Homo sapiens: one gene and its partners. The protein of the gene in region 5 purifies or fractionates together with the protein of the main gene of each other region. This does not show direct contact. Each region holds a gene or a part of one and is shown on either strand. Other genes may lie near its edges. The genes, in order: JOSD1, DDX3X, EIF4G1, PRRC2B, EIF3F, CSTPP1 and EIF4B.

Region 1 (2,951 bases), on a different chromosome or scaffold from region 5:
TAAAACATCATTTGCGAGGAAAGAACTGTGAACTCCTGCTGGTGGTACCAGAAGAGGTAGAGGCTCATCAGAGTTGGAGGACCGATGTGTAACAGTTCTGCCCAACCTCCCTCTCGCCTCAGCCCCTTCAGTCCTCTGTGACGTGCTGTGGCCTCTACAGTGGGTCTGCCCTTGCCACTTCCCCAAACATCTCATCAAGTTTTTCCCCTTCAGATCTGACAGTGCAATAGGACAGACGTGTGGACTGTTATAAGAACTACTCAGTGTTTTGTTCCTGGGCAAGGAAGGTAGGAGTTCTGTGCACTTAAGGCCAGTGGTCACAAACCCTTGTTTTATTTAAGAGACAGAGGAGAAAGTGGAGCGGGGAGGGAATCCTAGCTTATTTTCCCTTTTCTATGAGGACTTGACACAGGTTCTGCTGAGTTGTCACTGCTGCTCCAGACTCACCTAGAGATGCTGCCTCCACTTTCCATCCTGTCTGGGTCTGAAAACAGTGGGTCTGCAGATAGTGCCCACAAACCCCATGTGACTGGTTTGAAGGACCCAGAGCATAAAGGTCTCTCAGGAAACCATGTCCAAAACCCTAGCAGCGGTACAGCATGCTGTCTCCAACCCTTATCCCCAGGTTTAAGGGTGGTTTATGGCCATACGTGGAGGTTTTTTGTTGTTGTTTTTGAGACTGAGTTTCACTCTTGTTGCCCAGGCTGGAGTGCAATGGCACCATCTCGGCTCACTGCAACCTCCACCTCCTGGTTCAAGCGATTCTCAGGCCTCAGCTTCCCAAGTAGTTGGGATTACAGGCGCCTGCCACCACACCTGGCTAATTTTGTATTTTTAGTAGAGATGGGGTTTCTCCATGTTGGTCAGGCTGGTCTCAAACTCCCGACCTCAAGTGATCTGCCCGCCTTGGCCTCCCAAAGTGCTGGGATTACAGGCGTGAGCCACCGCACCCGGCAGAGTTTTATAATGAAAAATTAACTAATATTCTAGTATGAAGTGAGGAGGATACTGAACAGGATGTGGCTAAAGCCAACCTGGGACAGCCATGGGGTGGCTTGGTTTCTTCACTCCAGTGTTGTCCCTACCATTTCGCAGCATTGATTTAGGAGGCTCTGGGACAAAAGAGAAGCCAAAGAGCAGTTTTCCCAGTTCACTCACTCTGGCAAAATCAGGAAAAAAAAGTCTGCTTTTGACATCAAATTCCACTAATTTGGGGCAGCGTTGGGTGAGGAAAGTATTGTGAAGACAGGCTTCTTGGAGTAGGGGCAGCCACAATTCAGTAGACACTCTAGGCTCGGAGGCTGCCACTGTAGTTGCCAAGCTCAGGTTGGGTGGTTCTGTGCTGTATGGATGGAATAGGACCTGGGCTGGTCATCTTCATGTCGTTTCCTCTCTGTATCAATGGAAGTTCAACCCGCCCCTACCTCTTCAGATAGTTGTAGGCCACTTTTCTCTTGTAACTTTGGAAAACAAAAGAGGAGAAATAAGTATCATACCATATGCGTGTCTCCAAAGTGGATGTGGTTGCCTCAAGGCAGGTGGCAGGCAGGGGTGACCTGCTGGCCCTCAGATCAATGGTCGTGGCAGGTCTGAGAGCTGTCCCACTGGCCAGACTTCTCTCCAGCAGCAAAGCCAGCCTGGGGCTTGCATGTTGATCCTGAGCAAGCTTAACGGGGTGAAGCTGGGCTTTCTCCCCCCTGTGACTGGAGTGCATGTTGACACCAGCACTTTTTCTGCACATGTATCTTCAATCCAACAAGGCCGTTTTTTTAATGCTGAGTAACAGGCCACCAAGCGGCTACTGCGTTATATCTTCTCAGCAACTGGCCGCAGTCTCTTCTGCACCATTTTCTACACCAGACCTGCTTGGCACCACAGGGAGCTCTTTTCCTGCCCTGCACAATGACATTCCAACCACCACCAGCCAGACATTACAGCCAACCTTGCTGATTGTCACAAGCAGGACCTTGGGGCCACTGGCACTGTCAGATAGTAAGCCATTTCTTGGGTAGAGGAGGAAACTCCTCTCCACAAATCCACTTGGGCCTGTGCAAATGGCACTTGAAAGAGTCCCCATGCACTTGGAGTCCATGAGCCAATGGGATATGCAAAGACGCTTAAACATTTCAGGGCTGGTTTCTCTGTTCATATCCAATTCTGGTGCTTAGGAACAGGGACCCATGCTGATGCCCAAGGGCAAAAAGCCCCACTTCCTTTAAGGAAGTGAACAGGCCTGACCCTGATGCCCAATAACGGGCAACCCTAGGCTTTTTGTTTTTCTTGCTTTTATTCCTTTTTGTTGTTGGCCTTGTGCTGCGTTTGTTTACAAAAGATGTATTTTGTTTAACCAAATATTAAAAATGGAAAACTCCATATATGTCTCCTTGTCTGCCTGAATTCTATAATTGTGTAAAGAAAAATAAACTTTAGTATGACGCTGTTTTAAAAGGAGTTCATTGCCAGCGTAAGTCATCTTTTAGAGACATATCATTCTTTGATTAACTCTTTCACCTGAGAAATCCAGACAAAATAGTCACTGAAATGGGATTTGGTTCAAAAGATGTCTCTAAGACATTTTTCAGTCTATTTTAATTTATAAAAACTAATCTTGACAATTTGAAGAATCCACCTAAGTACAAGTTTGTACCACACTGGTGACTAGTGTTTTTCCCTAGTTAACAAGTGAAAGATCATGTATACCCAGCGGGCCTGGGCCCAGCCCCACCATCCCGAGCGCACAGCAGCAGTGTTCTGTAGCTGGACTGCCTGGATTTGAATCCAGGTCTAGCACTTAACTCTGCAGCCTTGAGCAATTACCTTTCTGTGGCTGTTTCCTCTTCTGTAAAATGGGAACAGTACCACCTAGATTGTAGTGTTGGTTGATCTGATAAACACACAAAAGGCTTACTCTGGCTGGGCGTGGTGGGTGACGCCTATAATCCCAGCACTTT
Region 2 (3,307 bases), on a different chromosome or scaffold from region 5:
TACCTGTTTTCAGAGATAAGGTCTTGCTATACGTTGCCCAGGCTGGACTTGAACTCGTGGGCTCAAGCAATCTTCCTGCCCCTCAGCTTCCAAGTAAACTAGCACTATAGGACTATGTAATCATCACACCTGGCCCAAATAGTCTTGATTCCTTCCCTAAGTATATACTTACCATCACTTGTTGGACTACTGACACACTTGACTTTTATCCTGCTCATTCTTCCACTGTTCAACCATCCTTCATAATAGATACTTCAAAGAACAAAGAGACTCCCACCCATGTCAAATTGTTCAAAGTATAAGCCAATTTCTAATACATGCTGTATTATCAGTAAGGGCCTTTTAGATTTCCGTCTATTACAAAAATCCTGTTTCACTGTATTTCAAACTAATACTATCTTCATCTTTCATTGCAAATACTTATGGTATGAGTCATTCTGTATCCAAGAGGCATCTCAAAAAATAGCACTGGATGACAAGCAAAAAATAACATTTTACAATTTTTCAGGCAAGAGCACTTTATTTACACCTCTGAAAATAAACCACAATTGACAACAACAAAGGAGACTGTGCAGTTCAACTTTTTATTTTAATAAAATCAGAATATGCACAGCACATGCAGTGCTAGCATCTAAACTAATACAATAAGCAATTACTAAAGCTACAGTGACTTGAGGTTCAATCTTTACATTCAGCAAGTTTAAATCCTTACATGATTTTTGAAACCTTATTAACTGAAAATATTGCTTGCTGATAAAACTTGCTCAAATGCTATTGCTGAATGTACAAGTCACTGATTATGCCAATACAACAAAGATAACCACATGTTTGAGGATTGCAATGTGCCAGACATTCACTGAAAAAAAAAAAAAAACACACAACTAAACAAAATCCACACAACAAACATCTGAGAATCTGGACACTTCACATCAGTGTTTTGAAGTGTTTCATTAATATCTTAAGACAAGTGTATCAAAACCTTGGCATGATTTAATTTCAAGTCGCCAATTTTGTTTTTACTAACATCAGAAAGTTATGGCTACACTGCCAACGCCGGGTCTGCTTAATTTGACTTAAGAGTTTAATATGACTTAAACATTAAAAGCTCACACTACCCCGAAATATATAATTTCACGCATACGGTGACATTCAACATTCAAGTGCCAGTGTTTTTGTACTGTCTTTTGGTCAAGTTTCTTTAAACTTTCAAAGAATCACTTTTAGGCTTACAAAAATAAATATTTGTCAAAATGTTCAATAAATATTACATAAAACTAGCAGCAAAAAGTATCTAGAAATCTGTCGTGTGCAAATAGTTTTCTTCCCAACTATCATTCCCATGGTCCCAAATAAATTTTAGAATCTAGTCCCATCCCCTTCCTAGACAAGCTGCGTTCAACAATCTCCAAGAGACAAAGTAAGATTGGAAGTTTAAGGACACGCACACAAGACATATATATAAAATTCTCTGAATGTGCAATAAAAGAAGTACTTTGTAAAAAGTTATGGGCAAAATGTACAAGGGCCTAAACCTAGACTAATTGAAATAGCACCATAACAAATGACCTCAATACTGTCAAGTGCACCTACTTAATAAAAGTTTTAGAACAAGGCACAATACACTTGAAAATCTATTGCACTTTAGGAAATTTTTGCCGTCTTCCTATGCCACTGTAAAAAGATGGAGCGTTTTGATCACCGCATTCTGGCCACAAAATTAGCACAGAATTCAAAGTGGCAGAGGCATTTTAGTGGTGGACAATGCTCATCTTTGGCCAGATTTAGCATAAACAGACTATAAATACAATGGAAACCTATGCAACTAAAACTGACTAAAACTGCACTGTAGAGCAGAATTGACACCTTGTGCAGTTATGTACATATTTCCAACCTGTGTGATCTCAAAGATTTCAGTTTGTTACTCTTCTGGAGCCATTTTTACGAAGTCTATAGTAAGCCAGTTTAACATCTCAACGCAGCTTGAACAGAGTAATGTGAATCGGCATTTAAAATAAAGCCTGCTGCATTTAATTCTTCCTGTTCATACCCTCTTGACCAAAAAACATCAACACTAGCATGCGTTATTAGACCAAAAATCATCCAGGGCCCTAATGAGGGCTGGTCATTGCTGTGGTCAGCCATTCTACCATTTCAATTTCATTTATGGCAGGCATTTAAAAAGTCTAAGTAGATGAATTCTCCTAAAAACCTATTTCAAGTTATCAGACCTTTAAACTTTCCCTGTAATAGTATGCCCACATTTGGCTAGCTCATAATTAATGATCTGCCTAAACGTTGAAAGAGGAATTGCTGTATTTACTTGCATTAACTTTGAAAACAGTGCTTTGAATGTATGCATGTATTCATACATCACCTCATCATGACTGGAATGGCTTAAAGACTATCAGGTTCTAAATACCTATCCAGGATAGAGTGAGCAAATCAGAACTTTAACTTAATACAGTTTGCCACATTAGAAACTAATTCCATTAATATGCTTCAAGACATTTGTTGTTTTCCCCCAATCTGCAAGTATCAAAAAGCCCTAATGCAGGCTACCGCATAAGTTTTTCCTTATATTATTTATGGATGAATCGATGATTCCTGTTAAGTTGTATCACACCTGTGTGCCAAGGTTTGATTTTAGCCCAAGTTCAGTAAATTTATTTTGTCAAAACAATTGATATCTTGAGCATTACTGAGCCAACAGGACATCAAAATAAAAAGTTGTCTAAAGTTAAAGGCACAGTACATTAACAAACAAATGATCCTCAGTCACAAAATTATAAATGCAGTTTGGGATGGGGGTAGGCGGGAGGGGAGTTAATCCAAACTACAGCAATGAAGTCTTCAAACCACCTTCTGAACAGGGCTGCTGATTGTTCCTTTCATTTCTTCTTGTGACCTTGAGCTCCCTTAAAAAAAAAATTTCAGTGGAGAATCACAGCTGGTAATGTACTGCGAGTTCTTGAAGCTACACAAGGTATAGTCTGGCTAAGTTACATGTGGTTTCCATATTAGCTTGTTTGGCAGGGTGACCTACTGCAAAGCAGGCTCAGTTACCCCACCAGTCAACCCCCTGGGAGTTATAATTTCCTCCATATCCATCACTGTTGTAAAAGCCTCCATAGCCACCTAATGAGAGATTTAAAAAGAGAGAGAAATTAATGAAGTTATCCATCATTAAATACAATCCTTCCCTTACGTAATTTGCCATCAAGTTTCTATAGTGCTGAACTTAAATTGTTTAATTAGGCTTTGAAAAAGATGACTAAAAGGAAAAAAACCCTTCCCAAAGCTATGAAGT
Region 3 (3,500 bases), on a different chromosome or scaffold from region 5:
GAAATCTAAGTCATCATTCTCTGGTACCCAGTTCAAGTCACTCCACCACCTCAGCATTTAACTGTTAACATTCCCTTTCCCCATAAAAGCTCCGTCCCACCGGCTTACTTACCTGGCCGGACAATGACAGCAACCTGGGGCGTCTCCCCATTAGCTTGAGGCTCCAGACCGCCTCCCGTCTGCAGGACACAAAGGGTTACCAAGTTTGCACTGAAGAGTCCCACAACCCTTCTTTACTAGAGCCATTTCTACTTTAGCTCTGCCTAGAAATCCAGGAAAGCAGGGAAATAAATCCCTTAGTTGAAAGAAAAGATCCAGGGACTTGGGAGTCCAGGGCAGAACAGACATCCCAGCCAGGGTATCACTCGAAAAGCAGACAGTACCTGGGGAGGGGTGGGTGTGGAGGCAGTGCGGGCCCCAGACATGATCTCCTCTGTGATATCCTTTCCTCCTTGGTTTGGATCTCGAATTCGGATCTGGGGAAAGAAAGCTATAAGATGAGTGGGAAGCAGGAAGAGCCCACCTCTCCACCCTGCCCCAATCTTAAGACTCTGGGCCAACTCCCCACCCCCCAGCGGGAAGCAGGTAGGTAGGTGCCAGAAACCCCTTGAGTTCCACTTTCAGCCCATCTGGCTGCTCTCGTAGTCCCTGCCCCAGCTCCCACCCTTAAGAGACCCTTGATCTCACAGAGCAGCCCTGTACATCACAATGCCCCTCCCTCCCTCATCCCTACCCCACCAGCAGTCCCCAAGTCAGTGGCTGCACACCCTGGGGCCCAGGACCCCCATCTAGAACCCAATCGGCTCACTTGTGGCTAGTGTGCCTGATCTCTGGGGGCAGGGCCCAGATCCAGTAGGTGGAGCCAGGGTGACTCAGCGGCTTCCCCAGCTCTGGCACCCTATTCTGGGCACCACGCCCAGGGCTTGAGGACTGAGCAGAGGCGGAGGCCTTGAGAGCTTCCAGGACTGGGGGGGCAGGGGGGAATGGGGGCTGGGGCCACAGAAAACAAACCATTTCCAAGGCAAGCCACTAGAAACCCAAAACCAAGCATAGTTCTTCCAACCCCCCAGCACCCAGGTCTCGCAGGAACTTCCTCGCTAGGCACTTCAGTCTTCCCATGACCTGCTTCTATGCTGAAATCTTAGCATCTTACAAAGAACCTGAGCCCTCCACAGACACCATTCTCTGCCCACTCTCAGCTCCTTCCTCCTCAAGTCACTGCTCTTTCCGGCACAATGTCCCAGCAGCACCTGACCTTGATTCTCCCCTTCCCAGATGTCCCGGAGCCCCTCACTGCTACTCACCGTCTTACGCTCCCTCTTGGGAGCAATCTGGGGTGGCTGGTTCATCAAAACTGGGGTGGGGGCCACGCCAGTGGGAAACTGCTGCACCCCTTGGGCTGGATAGTAGGCGCCAGCTTGGGGGAGGGGGGACGGAGAAGAATGGTGGTAGCGTCAGGGCCCAACCATATACTAATGCCTGCCTGACACCTCCCACCCCAAAACCTCTCACCACCCACAGCCGGCCCCTTGCCTTGCCCTGCCCTGCCCTCCTCCCCCAGGGAATTAGGTGTCTGTCAAAGCTGGGGAACCAGTCTGAACTGCGTTTACAAGAATTCCTAACACACACACACACACAAACACACACACACACACACACACACACACACACACACACACCCCTCGTAGGCAGGCACTCTTTCCTACCACACACCAGTGACCAGGAGGACTTATGTCTGTCCTTCCACCGTACAAGTTACTCTCGTGTGTGTACCCCACCCGCTATCAACATGTACACACATACTCTGAACCTGAAACAGAACCAGGTCTTTGGCTGGTAATGAGAGAAAGAGATCTGCCAACCCTGTTCCATTTAACTTGAGTCTAGTTCCTGTCTCCAGCCCTTTACAAAGGGGCAAAGAAACAAAGTAACATTATGAACTAGGCTCAAGATGAAGAAAAATTAATTCCTTAAAGCAAACTATCTCCAAAGTGGGTGAGTTCTTTTTTCCCCTTAATTTTTTTTTTTTTTTGAGATGGAGTCTCACTCTATTGCCCAGGCTGGAATACAGTGGCACAATCTTGGTTCACTGCAATCTCCACATCCCGGGTTCAAGCGATCCTCCTGCCTCAGCCTCCCGAATAGCTGGGATTACAAGAGTGCATCACCAGGCCTAATTTTTGTATTTTTAGTTGAGACAGGGCCAGGCGTGGTGGCTCACGCCTATAATCTCAGCACTTTGGGAGGCTGAGGCAGGTGGATCACTTGAGGCCAGGAGTTCGAGACCAGCCTGGTCAACATGATGAAACACCATCTCTACTAAAAACACAAAAATTAGCTGGGTGTGGTGGCACACGCCTGTAATCCCAGCTACTCGGGAGGCTGAGGCAGGAGAATCACTTGAACCCAAGAGGCGGAGGCTGCAGAGAGCCAAGACTGTGCGACTACATTCCAGCCTGGGTGACAGAGCGAGACTCCGTCTCAAAAAGAAAATTAAAATAATAACAATAAAATTTAGTAGAGACGGAGCTTCACTATGTTGGCCAGGCTGGTCTCGAACACCTGACCTCAAGTGATCCGCCTGTCTTGGCCTCCCAAAGTGCTGGGACTACAGGCGTGAGCCACCGTGCTCAGCCCCCCTCAAATTTTAAAATAGAGACAGGGTCTCACTAAGTTTCCCAGGCTGGTCTCAAACTCCTGGCCTTAAGCAGTCCTCCTGACTCCCAAAGTGCTGGGATTACAAGCAAGATCCGGGCACATTCTTTAATTTCATCCCTAAATTCCACTTGTTTTTGACAAGCACAAGTGTATTTGTTTAAATTTTGCATACATATAAACAAAAACATACATGTATGAGAGATTCATACTCAAAACTTTTCCTGATAGGTGATCAAAAAACTTGGAAGCCACTGCCATAAAGAACAGACTAATCCTTCCCTAGAACATAAATAAAAAATAGCTACAAAAACCTCCCAAATTTGCATTACATGGGCTCCCAACCATGGAAGAAGTGTCACAGGGAAAGCCTACTAATAGGCTCTCAGGCTGGTGCCTGATCCTACATTCCCTGATGTGGGAAAGACTCTTAACTCTCCTGGCAATAAAATCAAATTTTCTCCCCACAATCAACACCAGTTAAATATTAAGCACCAATCCCTACCACCTATTAACCTTATCATTTTTAGACCAGAAGCCAAGCCTGGGAAGGGTCTTCTGCTTTAGAAATCAGCAGATGAGTTTAGATGCTCCCTTGGGCTTGTTCTCACCTCTGACTCCCTCCCCTGCTTACCGTAGGTCCCAAATTCTGTAGGGCTTGCACCTGGATAGAAGCCTGGGGCTCCTGGCTGCACAGGGTACTGCTGTGTCGGGACAACGTATGTGGAACGCCCCTGGTGGGGAAGGGGGAGAGGGAGAGAAGGAGTTGAGGGAGCTATGAGTTCCATATCAGACTCCAAAAAGAACATAGGTCAAGACAAGACAAGCCAACTCTGGGCAATGAC
Region 4 (3,500 bases), on a different chromosome or scaffold from region 5:
CCATGTCCGTGTGCAAACATACGTGTAAGGCTGCCCCCACCGGCTCTGCCTGCTCCTGGGGAAAGTGGCTCCCCAGGGCTCTCCCACATGCTATGTTCAGAGTGTAGGGGGGAGAGAGACAAGGGGAATATGCTCAGAATGGAGACGCCAGCATTTCTGCTCCTCTCCAGGACTGCCCTGCCGGAGGGCCCTTGGGGCAGAAAACTGAGGTGAAGCCAAGGGTCAGCCTCTGGCGCCTGGAAAGCTGGATTAGATGCCACCTGAAAGAGTCGGTGTTCCCTGTGGCTCCTTCTCTGGGAGTTTCTCTGCCTTGAATTCTAAGGAGAGTGGAGGTGTGAAGCCATCTTCCTCAGTATGCTGAGGACAGGGAAGGCCTCAGCAGCCCCTGCACCTCCCTGTCCGAGGCACAAGCCAAGTGCAGTCAGTCAACCCAGACTGTGCAGGGGACCCTCTCCTGGTCCCTGAGCAGAGGTCATCACCCGAATGCCTCTGGCTGTGGAAGAGGTGCTCGCCAGACCATGTGCAGCCTGCTCCCCTCTGCGTTTGCTGGGCTCCTGCCATGCTGAGGTGGCAACCCCACCGTGGGGCCACGTCTCCTCACAGTGGAGAAGCAGAACCATCTAGGAAGAGCCACTTCCATGCAGCCACGAGGCCAGCGATGCCCCCTAGGACGCCGCCTGGCAGCAACTCCGGAGCAGAGGACTCTGGTGGACTGACCGGCACCTGGCACTGTGCACAGGCAACGTTCCTCGCTGCAGCGGCCCCTCGGCGGGGCTCCAGGGACACATGACTGGACTCTCAGGTCAGGTGCTGGACAGTGGCCTCAAGAGCACCACTGGGGTGGGGGTGGGGGTGGGAGCTCTAGCCACAATAACACCACCACGAGAAGCAGACAGGCAATGTGGGGGCAGGCAATGGAGACGCGCACAGACGGCCTGGGGGCAGGCCCCCAGCCCCGACACACGGCGGCATCGGCATGCATGCGTGAACTCAGTGCTGCTGAGAACAGAACACAACAACAAAAAGGGCCCAGATGGTGTCTGGTTTTACCTTTTCACTTTCAAAGGCGTCCCATTCTGTTGGCTCTCATAGCGAGGGGAGGTGTCACCACCACCTGGCCTAACGGGCTTCTCCCCAAACCCTCCCGGCTCCAGCTTTCGGCTCTGTCTGTCAACCACGGGTCTCTGACTGGAGAAGCTCCTCTTGGCCAGCTCCTTCTTCTCACCCAAACTAGCCCCCGACAGGCCACCATCCACCTGGGAGTCGGGCTCGGACCCAGGGCCTTCCCGCCGCTCCCGCCGCTCGCTGAAGTCGCTGCTTTCGGAGGCCGTCTCCCACTCCTCATTGGCGTGATCGGAGGAGTTCTGGTAGGAGAGCTCAGGGGACCTGCGGCCCACAGTGCCACTCTTGTCCCCAGAACACAGTTTGGGCCTGCCTGGCCACTGACCTGCCAGCAGGTGGGGCTCCTCCTCGGGTCCCCACAGGCCCAGGGACTCCCGCTCTTGCCGGAGGCGCCGGAATCGAGGGGGCTTATCTTGGCGTGGGGGGCGCCTTCTCCTGAAGGGCCGGTTCTCTGCATTTTCAGAATCTGCCACGTGTTCATCTTGGAAGAAGGATCTCTTGTCCTCCGCGCGGCTGTCCTCAAAGCCCCGGCCACCAAATGCGTCAGGGTGTCTGTAGGAATCTGGGACATAGTCTCTGTCTGTAGGTCGCCGGGATCCGCATGTGTCGGAAGGGCCATATTCCTGCCAAGAGCTGCCTGGACTTTTGCTCTGCCAGTGGGGTGACTCTTTGGAGACGAAGGTTCTCCGTCCATACCCGCAATTGCTCAGCCGGGGAGGGAGGGCTCGCCCAAAGGCCCGAGGGCCTCGGCTCTTGGCATCTAGACCGCTGTGGTCCTCAGAGCACCCCTTGTTGGACCGCCAAGAATCTCTGCAGTCGCCCTTCTTCAAGGTGCTCTCCTCCCTCTCCAGGAGCGAGCCTTCATTCCCGTTCTCGGAGCCCCTCTGCCGGCGGCGCTTGGGAAGTTCTTCATACTCTGAGCCCTCGCTATGGGTCTCACTGGCAACTCTCCGTCGGGGCTTGGCTCTGGGGCAGTCCTCTGGCCGCGCAAACTCTCGCAGGCCCCGGCCACGGCCGCTGCGCTGACTGCTGCAGTAGATGCTGCGGGCCCCCAGGACCCCCCCACCACAGAGGCCGCTCCCATTTCCGCCAGCAGGCCGACCACGAAAAGTGAACTCTCTGAAACCACGGCCCCGGCCCCGGGCCTGTCCTCTGACCCCAAAGGCTTGCTCCTCATCAATAAAGATCCAGTTATTTCTCTTCATGGGGGGAACATCGCTGGACTCTCGTGGGGGTCTGGCTTCCCAGGCCTTGTCAGGTTTCTCCTCCTCTTCAAATTTGGTGGCCTCGCGGCCAAAAGTGGCATGGCCAGGGCCTTTGTCCTCCAAAGTGGTGGTGGAGGAGTTGGCCAGAGAGGCATCGTTCTCTTCGTCCTCATCCTTTTCTGCCGTGGGGCTCTGCTCCTTCTCCTTGGCCAGCCGGGTACTCTCCTCCCCTAGCTCCTGCTTAATCTTCTCAAGCTCCTTCTCCTTGTCTTCCACCTTGAGGGCTTTCAGGACTGGTTTCTTGATGGGTCCCGACCTCCGGGTCCTGCCCGTCTGCTCCGGGTGCTGGCTGCTGGAGCTCCGGGGCTCGGGAGTCCATTCAGGCTCCGAGGATGGCTGTTTGTTGGGGCTCCCGTTCTTGTCCCAGGAGGAGATGTTAAAGGCCGTCCCCTCCCGGGGTGTCTCCCGCTCAACACCATGGGCTGTGTCAGCGGTCTCTGGCTGGTGGCTAACATCCCAACTGCCACACTCTGGCTTTTTCTCATCTGGGACAAAGTCAGGCTCCAATGGGGAACACCTGAGGTTTTGGGTGTGACCCCCAGGAGCACCTGCATCCTGAACATTTTCTTGGGGTGGAAACAAAAGCTCCTGGCCTATTCTTTGAGAAGAGATACAGCTGTCAAAGTCTGCTTGGGCCTTCTTGTCAAAAGCACTCAAGTACTCCTCCCCTCTCTCCTCAAAGAGATCGCGCTGAGCACTTACGCCCCCTGCCCTTCCGAGTGAGGCAGAGAAAGAGCTTTCATTCCTGAAAAGGAACCAGAAAAATCAGTCAATGCGATTGGAGCCTGGTTCCTGGTTTCCATGCTGAACACAGAGCTTAGTTTTAAAAAGAAAAAACAAAAACAAAAACTAAAACACTTTTTAAAAAGAAAGCTAGAAAAACAAAACAAAAAACAACAACCAAAAAAAAACATAAGCATCAACATTTGTTCTATCTTTAAACACGTCTCAGAAATGCCAGGCCATGAATTGGTCGGTGGCCCCTGGAGTCCTTGAGAGTGAAGACTGTCGTGGCCGCAGGCTGGGTACGGTGTGCCCCCTGGAGACAGAGGAGCCAGGCAATCCTCCGGGTCAAAGAGCAAGAGCAAGCTGGAGCCTGGGAGGCCGTGAAGA
Region 5 (2,508 bases):
TCAGCCTCCCCAGTCTCTGGGACTACAGGTGTGCACCACTGCTCCTGGCCATATCTTATTTTTTAAAGGAAAGCCATTACAGATATAATTGAAACCACGTCTGCATCCCTTGCCAATACTGTTCCCTCTCTTCCTCTTTTACTCTCCAGAAGTAGTATCTTAAATTTGATTTTATCATTTTTCGCATGTTTCCTACTTTTTTTTTGAGACGGAGTTTTGCCCTTGTTGCCCAGGCTGGAGTGCAGTGGCGTGATCTTGGCTCACCGCAACCTCCACCTCCTGGGTTCAAACGATTCTCCTGCCTCAGCCTCCCAAGTAGCTGAGAGTACAGGCATGCGCCACCACACCTGGCTAATTTTTGTATTTTTAGTAGAGATGGGGTTTCTCCATGTTGGTCAGGCTGGTCTCAAACTCCTGACCTCAGGTGATCTGCCCACCTCGGCCTCCCAATATTTCCTACTTTTTATAGTATATGTAAAAATATAAGGTATTGTTTCATGTTTTTCATGTTTTTATATTTTTATATATTTTTTTGAAAAATTACATTAACAGCATAAAATTCAAAAGTTATACAGAAGAAACAATAAGAAGTAAATCTTTCGTCCTGTCCTGTGCCCCATCTAGTACCTTAAGACAATCAGTGATAGTAGTTTCTTGGCTGTACCTTCACAAATATTCTAGGTATTTATATTATTTATTTTCCCGTACACAACAACAGCATATTATAGACAACATTCTCTCCTGGCTTTTTTCACTTACTCTTTATCCATATTGATATATAGAGGACTGTCTCATTCTGCTTAACAGCTGCATAGTATTGTGTTTTATGGATATATCATACTTTGTTTAATTTCTATTCTGGTAATAGTCATTTGGGTTGATTACCATCTTTACGCTATGATAACCAAGTATTTCAGTACTTATCTATGTATTCATTACATTGTGTCATAACGAGACCAGTTTATTTGTAGGATATATAATGAGGAGTGGAATTCCTGGGTTAAGGGCATGCATATTTGTAATTTTGACAAACACAAAATTACATAGAGAGGGCTGTACCAACTTATATGTCTACCAGCAATCTGTGCCTGTGTCACGTTTCCTCTTACTCTGGCCATTCCAGTGTTAGCAACTTTTAAAATTTGCGAATCTGATTTTTAAAAATGACATCGTTTTAATTTATGCTTTATCAGTGAGATCAAGCATCTTTTCACATTTGTGTGTCTGTGTGTGAGCTGTCTGGTCATATCCTTTACACACTAATGTATCAAATTACTGGCCTTAAAAAACTGTAGGAATTCTGGGACAAGAATATTAGCCCTTTTTTTGATATGAACTGCAAATATTTTCCCAGTTTTATATTTGTATTGACTATTTGTGTATGTGTGTAATTTGACACTCAGATTTTAAAAATGTTGCTAAATTTGTCAGTCTTTTAAAATAACTCCTGGATTCTCAGTTCTTAGAAAGTTCTTCCTCACTCATAAATCATTAAAAACACATTGCTGTGTTTTTTCCCTCATATTTATGGTTTTTTTTTCAGACAAGTTTTTATTCCATGAGCAACTTATTTTGGTGCAGGTAACGAAGTAGGAATCCAACATTGTTTCCAAATTACCACTCATTCGCTCTTAAGTAATCTATCTTTACTTGCTTGAAAACACAACTTTATCATATTCTAGAATTCTGATATCTTTAAATTGACAAAAACTGTATGTATTTTGTACAATGTGATGTTTTGATATATGTACACATTGCGAAATTGATTACCACAATCAAGCTAGTTACATCCATCACCTCACATATTCATTTCTCCTGGTGAGATCTACTCCTAGCAATTTTCAAGTATACATTAACTAGTCACCCTGCTGCACAACAGGTCTCCGGAACGTACTACTCCTGTTTAACTGAAACTTTGTACCCTTGACCAACATCTCCCCATTTATCCCCTCCCTCCAGTCCATGAAACCACCTTTCTACACTCTGCTTGTGAGTTCAATTTTGTGATTCCATATCCAAGTGAGATCATGGCTTATTTCACTAGCATAGTGTCCTCCAGGTCCATCCATGTTGTTGTAAATCAGTTATTTCCTTCTTTTAAGGTTAATAATATTCCATTGTGTAGATGTACCTTTTTTTTTTTTGAGATGAAGTCTCACTCTTCTCACTCTTGTCGCTCAGGCTGGACTGCAGTGGCGGAATCTCAGCTCACTGAAATCTCCACTTCCTGGGTTCAAGCCATTCTCACTTCAGCCCGAGTAGGTGGGATTACAGGCGCCCTCCAAGATGCCTGGCTAATTTTTGTATCTTTTGTAGAGACGGGGTTTCATCATGTTGGCCAGGCTGGTCAAGAACTTCTGACCTCAAATGATCCACCTGCCTTGGCCTCCCAAAGTGCTGGGATTACAGGCGTGGGCCACCGCGCTCAGCCCTATCTATCTTCTGTTGATGGACACTTAGGTTGATGTCTTGGCGATTGTGAACAATGCTTCAGTGAACGTGGAAGTA
Region 6 (3,500 bases), about 39 Mb from region 5:
CCCATCAAGCATTTTTCCTTTGTGTTACAAACAATCTAAATGTACCCTTTGAGTTATTTTAAAATGAACAATTAAGTTATCATTGACTAGAGTCACCCTGTTGTGCTATCAAATAGCAGGTCTTTTTCATTCTTTTTTTTCTTTTTTGTAACCATCAACCATCCCCACCTCTTCCCCCAGCCCCCTGCTACCCTTCCCAATCTCTGGTAACCATCCTTCTATTCTCTTTGTCCATGAGTTTAATTGTTTTGATTTTTACATCCCACAAACAAGTGAGAACATCCAATGTTTGTCTTTCTGTGCCTGGCTTATTTCACTTAACATAATGATCTTCAGTTCCATTCATGTTGTTGCAAATGACAGGATCTCATTCTTTCTTAGGGCCAAATAATACTCCATTGTGTATATGTACCACATTTTCTTTACCCATTCATCTGTTGATGGACACTTAGATTGCTTCCAAATCTTAGTACTCTAAACAGTGCTGTAACAAACATAGGAGTACTGATATTTATTCGATACACTAATTTCCTTTCTTTTGGGTATATACCCAGCAGTTGAATTGCTGGATCATATGGCAGCCCTATTCCTAGTTTTTTGAGGAACCTCCAAACTGTTCTCCACAGTGGTTATACTAATTTACATCCCCATCAACAGTGTAGAAGGGTTCCCTTTCTCCACATCCTCGCCAGCATTTGTTATTGCCTGTCTTTAGGATACAAGCCATTGTAACTGGGGTGAGATGTTATCTCATTGTAGTTTTGATTTGCATTTCTCTGATGATCAATGATGTTGAGCACCTTTGCTTATGCCTGTTTGCCATTTGTATGTCTTGTTTTGAGAAGTGTCTATGCACATCTTTTGTCCATTTTTTGATGGGATTATTGGATGTTTTCCTATAGAGATATTTGAGCTCCTTATATATTCTGGTTATTAATCCCTTGTCAGATGGGTAGTTTGCAAATACTTTCTCCCATTCTGTGGGTTGTCTCTTCACTTTGCTGATTAGAAATACACTTAAATCATTAAGTGATTGGCACAGCATCCTGTAGAAAGAAAACTGCAGAGGAACATTAGCCTAGATTCCATGAGAAAAGCCAGCCATGAAAAAAAACAGGCTAGATGAACATCAGCGAAAGGAAATCAAAGTGAATATTTTGAATAAAGGAGAAAGTTAAAAGAGAAACCTACAGAAATAGATCTAATAGATCAAACAAGCAGTTGTTAAGCTACTGTAATCAAAACTATTCATGAGACATCACTGGACAAACTAGCTGCACCAAAGGCATGCTCCAAAACATGTTTGGGCGGCCCACAACCAACCTACCAAAACTAAACATTCACTGCCACTACCTAATCAGCATTGTCCTGCTCTGTTCCTCAAGTATCCTGCCTGCTTCCAAGCGCCTCCTCTGGGTTCACTGTATTAGTACAACATTCATGTACTTACTATTCAGTGAAGAACCTGGCAATTCCATATTGGCTAATATCTTCCCTGTTTTCTAGCAGCTGGCACACTGCATCCTCCATGTAGGTGAGGACATGTCGCTGAGCTGCAATCAAATAGCAAGAGAGAAAGAGAAAATGAGAGAAAGATTTTAAAAAGAATGATCCCAATCCTAGTAGGAGGTCATGTGTAAGGCAATCCAGGTGTTGGCTCTGTCTGATGACACTTCATCAGTGGACTGGAATAGGCAAAGCAAACTTGCTGACCCTAACTGAGCTATAGTCTCAAAGGATAGATTGGGAGATGATGTGAACATGACCAATTGCCATTTGACTGGCTGTTAGTATTAGCATCAACCCTTCATTCTTCATCTCAATCACAAGGGTGGGTTGAAGAGGAGATTTAGCACCATTCAGCAGATACACCTGGAAGTTCTTTTCTTTCTACCTCCTTCTATTCTTTTCCATTTCTGCATCAGAAACTTATCCCAGGGAGTTAGTAATTCCATGCTTGAAGCATGGATGGTATGATTGTAAAGAAAACTCTGGCCAGGCACAGTGGCTCAGGCCTGTAATCCCAGCATTTTGGGAGGCTGAGGCGGGTGGATCACTTGAGGTCAGGAGTTCGAGACCAGCTTGGCAACATGGTGAAAACCTGTCTCTACCAATAATACAAAAATTAGCCAGATGCAGTGGCTACTTCCTGAGTAGCTAGTAATCCCAGCTACTCAGGAAGCTGCGGCAGGGGAATTGCTTGAACCTGGGAGGTGGAGGTTGCAGTGAGCCAAGATCATGCCATTGCACTCCAGCCTGGGCGACAGAGCCAGACTTCATTTCAGAACAGAAAAAAAAGAAAACTCAGTTAATTTAAATTAGAAAAAAAAAAAAAAAGTCACTGGAAAGGTTTAAGGACCATGAAAATTTTCGTACTGGTGTATATATAAGTTATTAACTTTGGTAAATAACAAGACCATGAAATCTATCTGGCTTGGTTTATTAGATGTCATGTTTTCTGCATTTGTTGTGACTTGGAAATGTGTGAGTTAATCATGGGCGTATAATAAAAAGTATGAGTATTAGAGTGAGACAGACCTGAGTTTGAATCATGGCTCTGTCTTGGTAGCTTAATCTTGGATAGTTACTTAGTCTACACCTGTTTTCTTCTTTATCAAGTGTGAAAAGCAATATAATTTAACTATGTTTCTCAAAATATGGTCAATCAATTTCTTGATCTGAATCCCCTGGGATGCCGTTTAAAACGCAGATTTATAGTCTGGCACTGTCCCAGATTTAGTGACCTTACATTTTTTACTACAGCCCAGTAATTTTTAACAAGTACTCCTGATGCTTCTTATGTACTCTTAAGTTTAAGAATCACTGGTTAAGAACCTGGGCTTTGGATTACAGAGAGTTGAGAGCTCCATTCTCAGCTCTGCCACTTCCTAGTTATGTGACCATAAACAAATTATTCTTCAAGCCTATTCTTCATGGTAAAATGGGGATAATAATGGTACTTACATTATAGGGTTATGAGAAATAAATAAGATAATACAGGTAAAACACCACTATGTGTTTGGTACATAGTACGTGATTGATAACATGTTTCCTTAAAAGCCTGTCTCAAAGCATTATTGGGAGTTTACTCAGTAAACAACATAGGCCAGAACTTCTTAGATGTCAGGTACTCAAATACTTCTTCCCTTTCTCTGAATTTTATCCTTAGGTATGACAGAGGTTTCCTGACAAACTTTACATAGAAGCTTCCAATTCAGTGTCCACATTTACCATAAAAAATTCAGAAAAATACTTTCATCTGGAGCAGTGAGAACAAAAAACCCCAAAGTGATGAATATCCTTCCAAAAAGCAATTCTATGAAGTTGCTGCCAAAGTAGACATTTACTTCTTTCACAGTTTCATTCCTCAGGAAAATATGATGGAATTACCTAAAATTTATAAATATTGGTATTTCAAAAAACTATTTCTGAAGTCCTGGTAGTCTAGTGAAGCTCATAAAACAAGTAAGTTTACCTGCCAACCTGAGCCCAAAAGTCTT
Region 7 (3,500 bases), on a different chromosome or scaffold from region 5:
ACCTCTCTGGATTGCTGGGTTCACGTGGTAAACGCACTGCACTGATCTGAAGGAATAAGAATCAACAACAAAGTTTCCCAGCATTCTTCTTCATTTGTCATTTTTTGAGAGGACTACAAAAGCATTACTGTATGTGCATGAATTTTTCTGAATACACAAGAACATGGTTGTCTCAGGAGGAAAACTGATGCAGAGGGATAGTAGAAACTTTACTAAATGCCCTATTATACCTTCTGAATTTTGAACTGTATGAATTTAACTCTAAAAAAAAAAAAAAAAAGATTAATTCAGGCCAGGTGCAGTGGCTCATGCCTGTAGTCCCAGCACTTTGGGAGGCCGAAGCAGGTGGATCCTCTGAGGTCAGGAGTTCAAGACCAGCCTGACCAACATAGTGCAACCCTATCTCTACTAAATACAAAAAATTAGCTGGGCATGTAATCCACTGTACTCCAGCCTGGATGACAGAATGAGACTCTGTCTCAAAAAAAAAAAAAAAAAAAAAAAAGAAAAAAAAAAAATATATATATATATAATTTTGATTTTATTTTTTTTCTTTGAGATGGTGTTTCACTCTTGTTGCCCAGGCTGGAGTGCAATGGCGCAATCTCGGCTCACCACAACCTCCGTCTTCCAGGTTCAAGCAATTCTCCTACCTCAGCCTCCCAAGTAGCTGGGATTACAGACGTGTACCACCACGCCCAGCTAATTTTTGTATTCTTAGTAGAGACAGGGTCTCACCACGTTAGCCAGGCTGGACTCGAATTCCTGACCTCAAATGATCCACCCGCCTCAGACTCCCAGAGTGCTGGGATTACAGGCGTGAGCCACCATTCCCGGCCTTAAATTATATTTCTAGTTGTTTTTTCAACAGCAACTGCCCATTCCACAATTAGTCTTTTTTAGACATTATCCTCAATATCTAGTTAATTATTACAACTTTTACACTTACATTTAATCCTCGAAAGAATTCCTTAATTGACTCTTCTGTAACATCATAGGGTAGGTTTCCTAGAAAAGCAGTGTAGGGTGGCGATTTGGGAAGACGGCTCCGGTCGATATTGGGTTCCCGAGCAGCCCGTGGAGCAGTGGGAAGGATGGAACGGTCAATTGGAGGCGCCCTATACACATCGTCATCGTTACTGTGCCAAGTGGTCGAAACTAGGATAGAGGAATGAATGTAAGAAATTAGAAGAAACTTCTCTCACTACTGTCATAGAACAAGAGGACCCATGTTAATTGCCAAATATTAAACATGCTATACAAGAAAACCAGACCAAAAAAAGTGGGGGTTCAGTAATAAGGGCACTTTACGAAGAGAAGCTTCTGAGATTAATTATGACACCTTAATCTTTATGTAAGCAAAGAAATATTATTCCATAAATACAACTCTTTATGGAATATTACTGTGTGCCAGCTACTTTATATTCATTATATCCCATCTTATCTTTTTAACAGTCCTGTGAGGTTGTCCCCCATTCTACAGAAAAGCAAACTCAGATTTCAGACAGTAATTTGCCCAAGGTCACAGACGGTAAAGCTAGGATTCAAACCTGGGTCCCTCTTACTCCAGGTATATTTAACCACTACTGACAACTCTTGTATTCCTAGTGGTGAGTTTGAAGTTGAGTATTTTTCTGCATGGTCTATCCTCCCTTAAAAACAACAACAGGCCTGGCTCGGTGGCTCACACCTATAATCCCAACACTTCGGGAGGCCAAGGTGGGTGATCACCTGAGGTCAGGTTTGAGACCAGCCTGACCATTATGGTGAAACCCTGTCTCTACTAAAAATACAAAAATTAGCCAGGTGTGGTGGCATGTGCCAGTAATCCCATCTACTTGGGAGGCTGAGACAGGACAATCTATTGAACCGGGAGGCGGCAGTTGCAGTGGGCCAAGATATTGTGCCACTGCACTACAACCTGGGCGACAGAGTGAGACTCCATCTGAAAACAAACAAACAAAAATATCACAACAAAAATCTTTTCCTACAGCACTGTCCATGAATTTGTACTTCAGATACCAACACCTATGGGAAGTACGACCTATATAAAATTTCCTGTTTTGGCCGGGTGCAGTGGCTCATGCCTGTAATCCCAGCACTTTGGGAGGCTGAGGCAGGTGGGTCATGAGGTCAGGAGTTCAAGACCAGCCTGGCCAAAATGGTAAAACCCTGATTCTACTAAAAATACAAAATTTGCTGGGCGCGGTGGCGGGCACCTGTAATCCCAACTACTCAGGCGGCTGAGGCAGGAGAATCGCTTGAACCCCGGGAGCAGATGTTGCAGTGAGCAGAGAGTGCGCCACTTGCACCCCAGCCTGGGCAATAGAGACTCTGTCTCAAAAAAAATTTCCTGTTTTTAGGAATTATGAAAACAGGTCATAGGAAAAAATATTCTTTCAGCATGCAATAAACGATTTTCAGGAAAAAAACAATGGTAATGAGATTTATGTCATACCCGGTCATTATAAAACATAGCTCCTTATTATTCCTGGCGACTCCCTGAAGGCACAGAACTTGTCCAATTGACTCTTCTTTATTTTCCCACCATAATTACTGTTCTCACTCCTTTTCCTCAGACCATTTTCGTTTACCCAAGGACACTCTGATTTTATACTAATGACACCTGGAACTAATTATTCCTTGGCTCTGAGTAAACATAGCTTACAGATTACACTGAAACATCACTTTTTTTTTTTTTTTGAGATGGAGTCTCGCTCTGTCTCCCACGCTGGAGTGCAGTGGCATGATCTCAGCTCACTGCACCCTCCGCCTCCCAGGTTCAAGCAATTCTCCTGCCCCAGCCTCCCGAGTAGCTGAAATTACAGGCACATGCCACCACGCCCAGCTAATTTTTGTATTTTTAGTAGAGATGGGTTTTCACCATGTTGGCCAGGCTGGTCTTGAACTTCTCATCTCATGTGATCTGCCCACCTCGGCCTCCCAAAGTGCTGGGATTACAGGTGTAAGCCATCGCGAGCAGCCTGAAACATCACTTTATGAGGACCCCATAGAATTTTAGACCTAAAAGGAATTTTAAAAGATGATCTAGTTCTTACTTTTAAAATGAAGAAAATGAGGCCCAAAAGAATAGTAACTTAAGAAGTCTGTTAATGCAAGAACAAGAACTAGCAAAGCTCTCTTAAATGACCACTTCAGTCTTCACTGCAAAGTCTGACAGCCCAAACCTCAGATTAAACCTTAGATTCTATAAAATATGTAAGATTTCAGGTGCTAAAAAATGAGTAAGTTCTTTTCAGATTACAAACGATGTGAATTATTATGTAATAGGTTTTGTCTAGAAAATAATAAACATTCCAAACACGATGACAAAAGAAAAGTTACCATCTCCTTCCAGGTCATCCGTTTCATCAGCCCAGCTGACTGGTTTGGAAACATAGGTGCTTCCTCCACCAGTACCCCCATCCTCAGCCAGAAAGTCTGTTAGGGAGATAGTCTTCCCCTTCTTATTCTTCTTTTTTGCTGTTTTAAAAGGCAAG

The links.
Region 1: the proteins of EIF3F (region 5) and JOSD1 purify together in Homo sapiens (affinity purification with mass spectrometry; 3 studies listed by BioGRID and IntAct, with this or other methods). This does not show direct contact.
Region 2: the proteins of EIF3F (region 5) and DDX3X purify together in Homo sapiens (affinity purification with mass spectrometry; 3 studies listed by BioGRID and IntAct, with this or other methods). This does not show direct contact.
Region 3: the proteins of EIF3F (region 5) and EIF4G1 purify together in Homo sapiens (affinity purification with mass spectrometry; 3 studies listed by BioGRID, with this or other methods). This does not show direct contact.
Region 4: the proteins of EIF3F (region 5) and PRRC2B purify together in Homo sapiens (affinity purification with mass spectrometry; 5 studies listed by BioGRID and IntAct, with this or other methods). This does not show direct contact.
Region 6: the proteins of EIF3F (region 5) and CSTPP1 purify together in Homo sapiens (affinity purification with mass spectrometry; 3 studies listed by BioGRID and IntAct, with this or other methods). This does not show direct contact.
Region 7: the proteins of EIF3F (region 5) and EIF4B purify together in Homo sapiens (affinity purification with mass spectrometry; 3 studies listed by BioGRID). This does not show direct contact.

Annotation. Positions count from the first base shown.
Region 1 is NC_000022.11:38,685,043-38,687,993, reverse strand, and holds the end of JOSD1 (josephin-1), read left to right. Parts: coding exon 1-92; 3' UTR 93-2,451; downstream 2,452-2,951.
Region 2 is NC_000023.11:41,347,468-41,350,774, reverse strand, and holds the end of DDX3X (ATP-dependent RNA helicase DDX3X), read right to left. Parts: intron 3,136-3,307; coding exon 3,056-3,135; 3' UTR 501-3,055; downstream 1-500. UniProt on the Homo sapiens protein: Multifunctional ATP-dependent RNA helicase. The ATPase activity can be stimulated by various ribo-and deoxynucleic acids indicative for a relaxed substrate specificity.
Region 3 is NC_000003.12:184,317,606-184,321,105, reverse strand, and holds part of EIF4G1 (eukaryotic translation initiation factor 4 gamma 1), read right to left. Parts: intron 3,390-3,500; coding exon 3,290-3,389; intron 1,418-3,289; coding exon 1,305-1,417; intron 844-1,304; exon of another isoform or gene 477-843; coding exon 384-476; intron 180-383; coding exon 113-179; intron 1-112.
Region 4 is NC_000009.12:131,474,086-131,477,585, reverse strand, and holds part of PRRC2B (protein PRRC2B), read right to left. Parts: intron 3,133-3,500; coding exon 1,051-3,132; intron 1-1,050.
Region 5 is NC_000011.10:7,999,845-8,002,352, reverse strand, and holds the end of EIF3F (eukaryotic translation initiation factor 3 subunit F), read right to left. Parts: 3' UTR 501-2,508; downstream 1-500. UniProt on the Homo sapiens protein: Component of the eukaryotic translation initiation factor 3 (eIF-3) complex, which is required for several steps in the initiation of protein synthesis.
Region 6 is NC_000011.10:46,985,261-46,988,760, reverse strand, and holds part of CSTPP1 (centriolar satellite-associated tubulin polyglutamylase complex regulator 1), read right to left. Parts: intron 1,554-3,500; coding exon 1,451-1,553; intron 1-1,450. UniProt on the Homo sapiens protein: Regulator of the tubulin polyglutamylase complex (TPGC) that controls cytoskeletal organization, nuclear shape, and cilium disassembly by balancing microtubule and actin assembly.
Region 7 is NC_000012.12:53,016,456-53,019,955, reverse strand, and holds part of EIF4B (eukaryotic translation initiation factor 4B), read right to left. Parts: intron 3,484-3,500; coding exon 3,346-3,483; intron 1,159-3,345; coding exon 950-1,158; intron 47-949; coding exon 1-46. UniProt on the Homo sapiens protein: Required for the binding of mRNA to ribosomes. Functions in close association with EIF4-F and EIF4-A. Binds near the 5'-terminal cap of mRNA in presence of EIF-4F and ATP.